3 linked regions of the Homo sapiens genome follow. The protein of the gene in region 1 interacts with the protein of each later gene in a pairwise test. Each region holds a gene or a part of one and is shown in the gene's direction. Other genes may lie near its edges.

Region 1 (3,500 bases):
TACCCTCTGTGAGCTACTTGGAGACAGGGAGGGGGCGGCAATACCAGCTGTTGGCAGCTCTGTTCTGCCCCAGCCCAACTGCCACCCACGGTGCCCCAGCCCCCCCTCCTGTCCTATCGTGTCCAACCCTAATCTGAAGCTGGTGCTGTCAGCCACATGTCACAGGCACTGCTGACGCCCCGGACCCCTGCAGTCCACAGACCACCCCCCACCCCCAAAGCCCAGCCACCCCACCACCATGCTCCCTCACTCTCCACCCTTCTCCCTGCCTCCCAGAAGCTGAGCTCCGACTCCTCCTTGGAGAGAGAGTGGGATGATGTCACTTCCTGAGGGTGGGGGGAGGAGTAGGCACGACCCCGGCAGGCTAGCCCGCCAGCCCGCCAGGCCACAGCTCGCCAAGTGGCTGCACCGGGGATAGGGAGGCGGGCCGGGCGGACATGCGGGCTGGCCACCTGGCCCCACGCCCTCTCGCCCACCCTGGGGGCTATGCCCACTGGCCAAGGGAGACTTGGCTGCTTCCTCCCCGAATGATGCCGGGCTCCTCGGACACACATTTTCCCTGGAGCCGCCACTGGGGAGAGGAGGATCTGCCGCCTGCCCCGGACCAGGTGCCATGTAAGCCTCTACTGGCCCCCGGCGGGGGACAGCTGCCCACCAACTTGGTCCCCAGCCCCCTGCAGCAGTTTAGTGCAGAGCTACCCTGGAGCCCTTTATGGGTATCTCTGGGGACCTAGCTCCCTGTGGGGTCACCTCCCACCCATGCTGCTTCCTTTCTCTTTGGGATGCTAAGGAGTGAGGGCCCTGAGTTCCTGGGCACTCTTTCCTGAGCTTGCTTGGGGCTGATTTGAATTCAGCTACTTCAGAGAGTTGAAAATCCAGCTGGAAAAGCTGCATGGCTCAGGGTGGGCTTGGGAGGTATGGTTGCCAGGAGGGGTGTGACCCTGCAGGGCTTACCCCATCCTTCCAGCAGTGTGGGGTGGAAGGTGTCCCAAGCCCTACTCCTGACCCTGCACCTCAACCGTGCTCTTCCCTCCCTGGAGGCATAGCTGTGGTGGGGACTTCTGTCTGATGGGTTCAAAACCAAGTCATAGAGCACGCTCTTGGCTTCCAGCAAAGCAGGAAACTGAAGCCTTCATTCAAGAAATACTTACTGAGCACCTGCTCTATGCCAGGCACTCCTCACCTTCCATGTTTGTCAGTCCCAGCTGCCAACCATACAGGGTCCCTTGCCCCCACCTTCCCAAGGCCTTCAGCCTTCCTCCTGCCCTGCTGGGCTTTGTGCTGTTGGGTGGGCTTGTTCTTGGTCTGGGAAGCCCCTCCCTTGACTCCAAGGACAGTGTGCACTGGGCCAGGTCTAAAGATTATAGGGTTTGAGGGCTGGGCTGAGGGTCCCACTGATCCCATGAAGGAGGAAACGGGGTCTTTAATAGAGCTCAACAGTGACTGCTGGGGTAACCCCAGGTAGAAGCCGATCCCTAGTGGCCAGTACCAGTCTCGGGGGACAGGAGAGACTCCAGGGGGAAGGCTGAAGTCTGTGTCCTGCTGCTAAGGTCCTTTGTGTTGGCTCCTGCCCGGAGGTGGGTCAGCACTTCCAGTGGCCAGCTCCAAAAATGCCTGTGCTTCTGGCCACACCGGGGACTGGTCCCGTGGCCCAAGGAATGCAGTGGCCCTGGGTGCCTTCACCTCCTCAGGCAGCTATAAGGTCCTCTGCTTTCTTTCAGGAGGTGAGCACCAGGCCCACTGAGCCTCTGCAGAGCCACCAGCCATGCCCGGGATCGTGGTGTTCCGGCGGCGCTGGTCTGTGGGCAGTGATGACCTCGTCCTACCGGCCATCTTCCTCTTTCTCCTGCATACCACCTGGTGAGTCCCCAGGCCCGGGGCCACAGGCCTGGGTTTGGAGAGAAAGGTCTGGAAGGACGCTTTCTGGCCATTTGTTCCTCCCTGCTTGGGCCCAAGTCCCAACCCTGTCATGCCCCCAGCTGCCCGGAGGAGGTGCCTGAAACATCTAGCCCCTTAGGGCAATGACACCCCTGCTACCATTGCTGGACCTGACCCCAACACTGGGGGGAGTTGCTGCTACTGTCTCCCCATGGCTGACCCTGAGTCTTTTACTGGCCGCCCATGCCCTTCTAGGCATTCGATGCCAGGTGGACAATGGTCTTATGGAGGAGGTGCCTGCTGCCAGCCCTCCTTCCACTGAATCTGGGCTGGGGAAGGGCCTGCCTGCTAGTAGCATCTCGAGGTACAGGGGCCACCTGGCCTTGCTCACACGGGCGTTCCTGTGACAGGTTTGTGATCCTGTCCGTGGTGCTCTTCGGCCTGGTCTATAACCCGCACGAGGCCTGCTCCCTGAACCTGGTGGACCACGGCCGCGGCTACCTGGGCATCCTGCTGAGCTGCATGATCGCTGAGATGGCCATCATCTGGCTGAGCATGCGCGGGGGCATCCTCTACACGGAGCCCCGTGACTCCATGCAGTACGTGCTCTACGTGCGCCTGGGTAAGGGCCACCCACCCTGGGGTGCTGCCCCAGACAACTCCCACCTCTCCATTCACTCAGCCAGTATTTACTGCGCACATGTTGCGAGCCAGGCCCTGTTTTAGCACTGGGGTACAGCAGTGAACTAAGGCCTTCTGTAGCTTACATTCTAGACTAGGGGCCAGCAAACTGCAGCCTGAGGGCCAAATCCAGCCTGCTGTATGTGTTATTAAATAAGGTTTTAGGCTGGGTGTGGTGGCTCATGCCTGTAATCCCAGCACTTTGGGAGGCCGAGGCAGGTGGATCACAAGGTCAGGAGTTCGAGACCAGCCTGGCGAACATGGGGAAACCCCGTCTCTACTAAAAATACAAAAATTAGCCAGGTGTGGTGGCACACGCCTGTAATCCCAGCTACTTGGGAGGCTGACGCAGGAGAATCACTTGAACCCAGGAGGCAGAGGTTGCAGTGAGCCGAGATTGCGCCACTGCACTCCAGCCTGGGTGACAGAGCAAGTCTCCATCTCAAAAAAAAAGAAAATAAGGTTTTATTGGCACATATCCATTCAGTAAGGTATTGTCTCCAGCTGCTTTGCCCCTACAGCAGCCGAGTTGAGTAGTTACTACAGCGACTGTAGGACTCCCAGAGTCCAAGATATTTGCTCTCTGGCCCTTTACAGGAAAAGGTGCTGACCCCATCCTCAACCATGTGCATCTCTTCAAAGCATATCTTCCTTGTGATCCTTCTCAAAACAGGCCTTCTGCTTCCTGGGAACCCCCTCAGGAGTCTGGGCCAGCTCCCCAGAGGACCAGCCTGTGTCCTCTTCTTGGGCTTAGGTTGCAGCCCCTTCTGGTCATTTGTAGTGAACACTGCTCTTGTGCTTCTGTGCACTGGGCTAGGCCCTTTTTCCTGTGTTAACTCACAGGGAGTGGGTGTTATTGGTCTCCGTTTATAGATGAGGAAACTGGGGCCCAGGCCTAGCTCTCACACAACTAGTAAGCGTGTAAATGTCGGAGCTGGGAT
Region 2 (3,500 bases), on another chromosome or scaffold:
TTTTGCACCTATACTCGCCACACCAGCAGGCGAGGGGCAGAGCATATTGTGCTGCCAGCACAGACTAGCTCTGCACAGCCTTAGCAGTGGCTTGGCTTTGTCCTGGGCCCAGACACATTCTCCAGAGAAGGGGCTGGGAGTAGGGACTGGACCACCTGGGACCTGCCTTGACACAGGACAGAGCCAGCCAGACTTGAACTAGAAGGGGCTGGGGGCTGACTTAAGCCACTCCAGGGCTTCCTCCTGGCCCCTCCAGTGTCAGTGCCGGACATGGTGCTTTGGACCAGCAGGCCTCAGGGACAGGTGCTGATAGGACACCCCAGAGGGTGTACCCTCCTGGTGTTGATGGGTGTGAGGACAGTGGGGGACTGTGCCCCTTGTCCTTGAAGCAGGAACGTTCTGGGGTGTGTGGCCAGCTCCTTCTCACAGCTTTCAGATTGTTCCCAAGGGCATGGAGCATGGAGCAGGTCCCTCGTGGTCTCTCATCAATTTGGAAGGCTCCAAATTGCCTTTGACACCCTGGTGAAAGGTTTGATACCCAGTGAGCTCCTAGCTGGGCATGAGCAGTGTAGCCATTTCCCTTCTTGGGGTCATGAACGTGCCACACTCTGCTTCTCTGCAGCACTTCTCCCCAGGCTCTCTGCCGCTGCTACCTCATTCACAGCTAGTGTTCTATGCCAGGATTGGGTGAATCATTTTAATGTACCCGGGCCCTGGGTCCTGCAAAACATATGTAGGAAATCAAAGGAAAGCCTGTCACCAGCCACAGCACCTCCGCAGCGGGAAGAGAAGGTGCAGGGTCGCACAGCCAGCCTCACTGACCTGCAGTTCCTGGCCACAGCCTCCAGTCCCTGTGAGAATGCAGTGGGCTGGGAGGGGAGGGGCTGGAAGGGCAGGGGGAGGAGACAGAAAGTGAAGGTCCCAGAACCAACTTGGAGGGAGGCCCACGGGGGGCCCGGGAGGTGGGCACTCCAGGAATAGGGCCACGGGGAAGGACAGAAGATGACGTTCCCTGACCTGTCAGTGGAGTGGGGCGGGTGGGGTCTGCATGGCAGCCCCTCCCTCTTCTTCAGACTGAACTACAGGCCTGCATCTGCCGAAGAGGGAGCGGGATCCTTTGGCATTTCATCTTGTGCTGTATGTGTCTTAAACACAAACCTTGCTATTGTTTTCCTCTGAAGAAACAGAGGATATTGAGACTCATTGTTTCAGTGGCGGGCCAGGGAGGGAGAAGCCGGCTGGGAGTGGCCTAAAGACTAAGTGGTTATTCGCCACTTAGTTAACATGGAGGAGGCTCCATGTTAACGCGCCTGTAATCCTGGCACTCTGGGAGGTCAAGGTGAGAGGATCACTTGAGGTCAGGAGTTTGAGATCAGCCTGGGCAACATAGCAAGACCCCATTTCTACAAAAAATGTAAACAATTAGCCAACTATGATGGCTTGCACCCATAGTCCCAGCTACTCAGGAGGCTGGGATGGGAGGATTGCTTGAGCCTGGAGGTCAAGGCTGTAGTGAGCTGTGATCGCATCACTGCCCTCCAGTGTGGGTGACAGAGTGAGAACCTGTCATCAAAACAAAAATCTCATGGCCATTTCCAAAGCTGACCCTAGACACAAGAGGTAACTGTCACACCCATGGGGGCCTGGATCTGGGCCTCAGCCAGCTCATCAAAGGAGCACCCGGCAGCTGTGGGAACGTGGGCAGGTAACTGTGCCTCAGTTTCTGCATCAGTAAAATTTGGACATAGCAGCACCTGCCTCACATAGCTACTGCCCCATAGCTATCAAGTGCTGTTATTATTAGTTGACTAATAATTTAAGCATCTGCTCTGAAACCAACTGGCCGACCTGTGCCGATGGCAGGGTCCGCAAGGCCCGCCCCCATCACCTTTGCCATAGGTGCCCTCTGTTCCATTCTCAGGCAGGTGCTGCATGAGGATTGGGATTGGGCCAGGCTGTGGAGGGCACACTTGACTTTTCCCTGGAGTCACCGAGTCCTGCACAGACACCACCTTCCTGGGGCCTTCCCAGTGGCTCTCCTCTCACCAAGAAGGAACAACTGAGGGCAGAGGTCAGTGTGTCCTCAGCTAAGAGCTTGATGGAGCAGCCAAGGGGTGGAGGACAGTGTGGCAGCCCCAGCCTGCCTTCTGCCCAGGGAGCAGGCTGCTTTCTAAGCCTCTCTGCATCACCCTGCCAGCCTGGTGCCAAGATGGGCAGGCAGAGCTTTGTGGATTCTGAGTGTGACACATAGCTACATCTGCCCGCAGGCGTAGGAATGAATTATCAGCAGGCTCAGATTAAAGCTTTCAAAAGCGATTTGTCATCAGTGTCAGTGTGTCGGCTGTATGCAAGGGCATCAGTTCAGGGAGGGGGCAGCCTCTGGCAAAAACCTGTGCCCTCACCTCCCCCAGCCTCCATCCTGGCCCCCAGCTGCTTGGCAGGAGGGCATAGTTGGATTGAGGGGCCTGGCAGGAAAGGAACCGCCGAGCTTATGGGTCTCAGGACTATTTCTAAAACCAGCCACAGACCTCCTTCATCTCCATCTGTGGTCAGGTTGGGGGCAGCAGTGGGAATGCTTCTTTGTTGGAGGTGACCCTTTAGGCCCGAGCTAACCCATCCCCTCCACCGGGAAGCCCACCCTTCTAGCACCCTTTCCTGGCACTCAGAGCACATCCTGCAGACCTTTGCTTATTGTCTGTCTCGTGCCTACACCCTAAGTCTGCCCACATCCCTGGCACAGATCAAGAACTCTGAAACATTTGTTCTCAGCAAGCATCGGTAGGGAAGGGGCTCGGGTCTCCTCTCTCACCTACCTAACACTGATGAATCATAAGATGAGTCCTTGACCTCAAAGGCGGACAGAGGGTGAAACTGACAAAGGCTGCCAGTCCCCAAGAGACTCTGGGAGTTCCATCTCCCTTGGACCCTCCCAGACCCTGGGCGGGCAGCCTTCTGTCGCCTCTGGCAGGTGTACACCTGTTTTGTTGGTTTGTTCACATTACTAACCTACCTGGTGACTCCCATAAATCCCTTTTGTTTTTCTTGCATTTAAGCCACTCCTGTCTGGTCCAGCATTTCCACGGATTTTGCCTTTTACAGGTGGCTTACCCAGTATTTTCACAGAACCTCTTGGTTTCTGTTTATCCTGCTGGGTAAGGCCAGCAGGTGTAGATGTGGTAGGCAGAATTTTCCATTCAAATGAAGACATGCCTATCAGAAAGCCCCTAGATTTGTGGATCTGAGAGGAGTTTTTGTGCATTCAGGAACTAGTGACCATCCTCTAGCTCATGAGGGAGGTGGGTGTTAAGTCAGCAGTCACTTTGTCCTGCTGGCAGCGTGTGCTATGGGAGAGGCTTCCCTGGGGCTCAAGGGGGGTGAGATTGCAAGCCTGAACAGGGGGCTCTTCCCAGTCCAACTTGCCTTGTTAATATAAACTATGGCCCTCCACTCAGCTCTTAGATTTTTTTTTTTTTTTTTTTTGAGACAGAGTCTTGCTCTGT
Region 3 (2,588 bases), on another chromosome or scaffold:
AGCCACTGACCAAACATTTTCCCAACATCATTAGGAATTCTTAGCAACTCCGTGGGTTGCAGCATTAAGTCCATCGCATGACTGTGCAGTTTATTTAACTTGCCTCCTCTTTGAGGGCATTACTCATGGAATCCTACACTGAGCCCATGTAGTGTAGGATTCCACTAATAAGAATCGTCTAGAGCAGGCAGATTCATAGAGACACAAGGTAGACCCATGGCGGCCTGGGGCTGCTGGGAGAGGACTCAGGTGTGACTGCTAATGAGGATGAGGCTTCTTTTTGAGGTGATGAAAAGGCTCTAAAATTGTGGTTGCACAGTCCTGTGAATATACTGAAAAACACTTTAGATGGGAGAATTGTATGGTATGTGAATTATTAAAATATCCCAGTAAAGCTGTTTAAGAAAAAAAAGAATGATTTTTAAACGTAGAGAATATAGGGGAAAAGAGAAGTTAATAGGTGGTGTCTAACAGGATAAATCTATAAATATTGGTATAAATTGGTTTTTTGAATTATGGAAGAATCACCAAAAGAAATGGCTAAAAGGCTTGGGAGGTTGCTGCTGAGGAGTAAGACTGAGGTCGGGGGAGTGCGGATGGGAGTCACCTCTGCACTACCGAAGTTTTTTCCTTGTTTGGAAATGTATTTTTAAAAAATGGAATAATCTCAGTGCAAGTCGGCACTGGGTGGAGGACACAGGTGCCCCCCTGAGCAGAACTTGGAGTCAAACCTGTGGAGTGTGGCTTGTGGGTGGGCCACATCCCTGGCAAGCTGTCCTGACTGCCATTTCCTTCCCAAGATGCAGCCGTCTGATGAGGCCACAACCCCTAGGCCCCTCAGGAGCTTTGCAGAGAGGAGGACGTGTACTCCAGGCGAGGCCTCTGGACCTGTGTTCCTGTGCCAAAGTCCTGTCAGGCTGGTGGGCACCAGGAAAGGCCTGCACCCTCTTCCTGCTCTCCCAGGAAGCCAGCTCCCTGAGCTCCTGAGCCAGCCGGAAACTCTTCCTCCAGCCTTCCGGGGAGAACATCCCTCCCATTCTGGGAAAGGAAAGCAGCCTCCAGGGAAATGTTTTCTGCCTTCCTGCTTCTAGAACCACCTCAGGTACTGATGAACCCCACTTAGCACAGCTGAAGGGGTTTGTGAATACTCCCGCCTAAATCCCTTCTACTTCACTCCTCAGGGGAGTGAAGTGCCTTAAGAAACAAAGCCCTGTCCTAATTTATCTAGCTTGTCAGTCCGGTCTTAGAGATACCCTCTTTCCTGAAGTGAGGCGTGCCTGTAGAAACACTATGTGGTCAGCCTGTCCCCAAGGAGATCTTGTGTCTCCTCTCCATCTCTGCCTTTGTTACCAGTGTGCATGTGTTTGTGTGTTTTTTAATAAAATATTGACTCGGCCAGTTGCACAAGGATTTCTTATTGAACCAGATGAAGGCTGTAAAACCTGGCCTGAAACAGTTTCCATTCGAGCTTGTGTCTGGCCCATGGCCCTCCACCCGTGCTCTGTGTGTGCCCCTTGCTGAACTGCTGGACTTCAGGTTTTCTCTCCATCTTGGGGGATAGTATAGCAGGGCAGAGTTTTAGGTAAACATGTGCAGGTTCTCAATTATATTCACGTCCTCCTTCTCCTGCAATACCAATCTTCTCATTTTGGAAAGAGCTTTAGAGCAAGCTAAGGGTTGTGTTTACACTATGATGATTAATGATCTCGGCCTAAATGTGCTGTTTCGCTGATCTTGAGCTGCTCAGTTGGCTAGAAAAAGGAGGGATGGAACAATGTTTGAGCAACCCCGTGTGCAAGGACCTACATTCACAACCACATCTAATAGCGATGGTAGTGACTGCAAGGGGGCAGGTTATAGGACCACATTTTTAGAAATGAAATCGGGGCTCCATCCCCAGGCACAGGGCAAGCCAGTGAGGAGCTGGGCTCAGGATCTAGGTCTGCCTGACTCCCAGCCCCATCCTTGCCTCTGCTGAGTGTTGCCGGAAATGGAAGCAGCCCCTGTGGGCTTTGAGCTGGAGCTCTGGGGCTACTCTTGTGGCTGCTGGCCAGCTCGGGGCATCGGGTTCTGTCTGGGATGATCTAAGGAAGCAGCACCCGTGGTGTATCTGGAGCCGAGTGCTGCTGATGGGAGGGGATCCTGTGTACCAGCTGGGCTGGAGCGGGAACATGGCTGAGCTGACCCTGGCACAGTCGGCTCCTCCAGGGCAATGGAATGGAGGAGTCTCAGCTGAGGAGGGCACGGTCCAGGTGAGGCATTGGGTCTGGGAGCCCCCTGCCTGTGTAGTGACAATGCAGGCCTCGCCAAGCAACGAGGATCCGGGTTTGACCATTTGAGCATCCCCCTAGGAGGGCAAAGGTGGGTGGAGGACAGTTGGAGGAATAGTAGCAGGAGCCAGAGTCTGCTCAGTGAGGAAGGAAAGCAAAACGCAGAGCCAAGTGAGGCCTCCACAGACAGCGAGCAGTGGACCATGCAGCCAGTGGCTTGGCTGAGGGGTGGCTGTTTGAGACCACAGGGCCTTTTTAGAAACTGGGGTTTCTGTGACCTCCCAAAAACTGTCTGGTAAAACCATCCCTTCTAAATGG

What was found.
Region 2: the proteins of DAGLA (region 1) and MAL interact in binary tests that used the Homo sapiens proteins (3 or more experiments, as listed by UniProt).
Region 3: the proteins of DAGLA (region 1) and CMTM7 interact in binary tests that used the Homo sapiens proteins (3 or more experiments, as listed by UniProt).

The regions. Positions count from the first base shown.
Region 1 is NC_000011.10:61,718,391-61,721,890, forward strand, and holds part of DAGLA (diacylglycerol lipase-alpha), read left to right. Parts: intron 1-346; exon of another isoform or gene 347-615; intron 616-1,721; 5' UTR 1,722-1,765; coding exon 1,766-1,860; intron 1,861-2,288; coding exon 2,289-2,500; intron 2,501-3,500. UniProt on the Homo sapiens protein: Serine hydrolase that hydrolyzes arachidonic acid-esterified diacylglycerols (DAGs) to produce the principal endocannabinoid, 2-arachidonoylglycerol (2-AG).
Region 2 is NC_000002.12:95,032,208-95,035,707, forward strand, and holds part of MAL (myelin and lymphocyte protein), read left to right. Parts: intron 1-3,500. UniProt on the Homo sapiens protein: May be involved in vesicular trafficking from the Golgi apparatus to the cell membrane. Plays a role in the maintenance of the myelin sheath, and in axon-glia and glia-glia interactions.
Region 3 is NC_000003.12:32,453,441-32,456,028, forward strand, and holds the end of CMTM7 (CKLF-like MARVEL transmembrane domain-containing protein 7), read left to right. Parts: intron 1-800; coding exon 801-814; 3' UTR 815-2,088; downstream 2,089-2,588.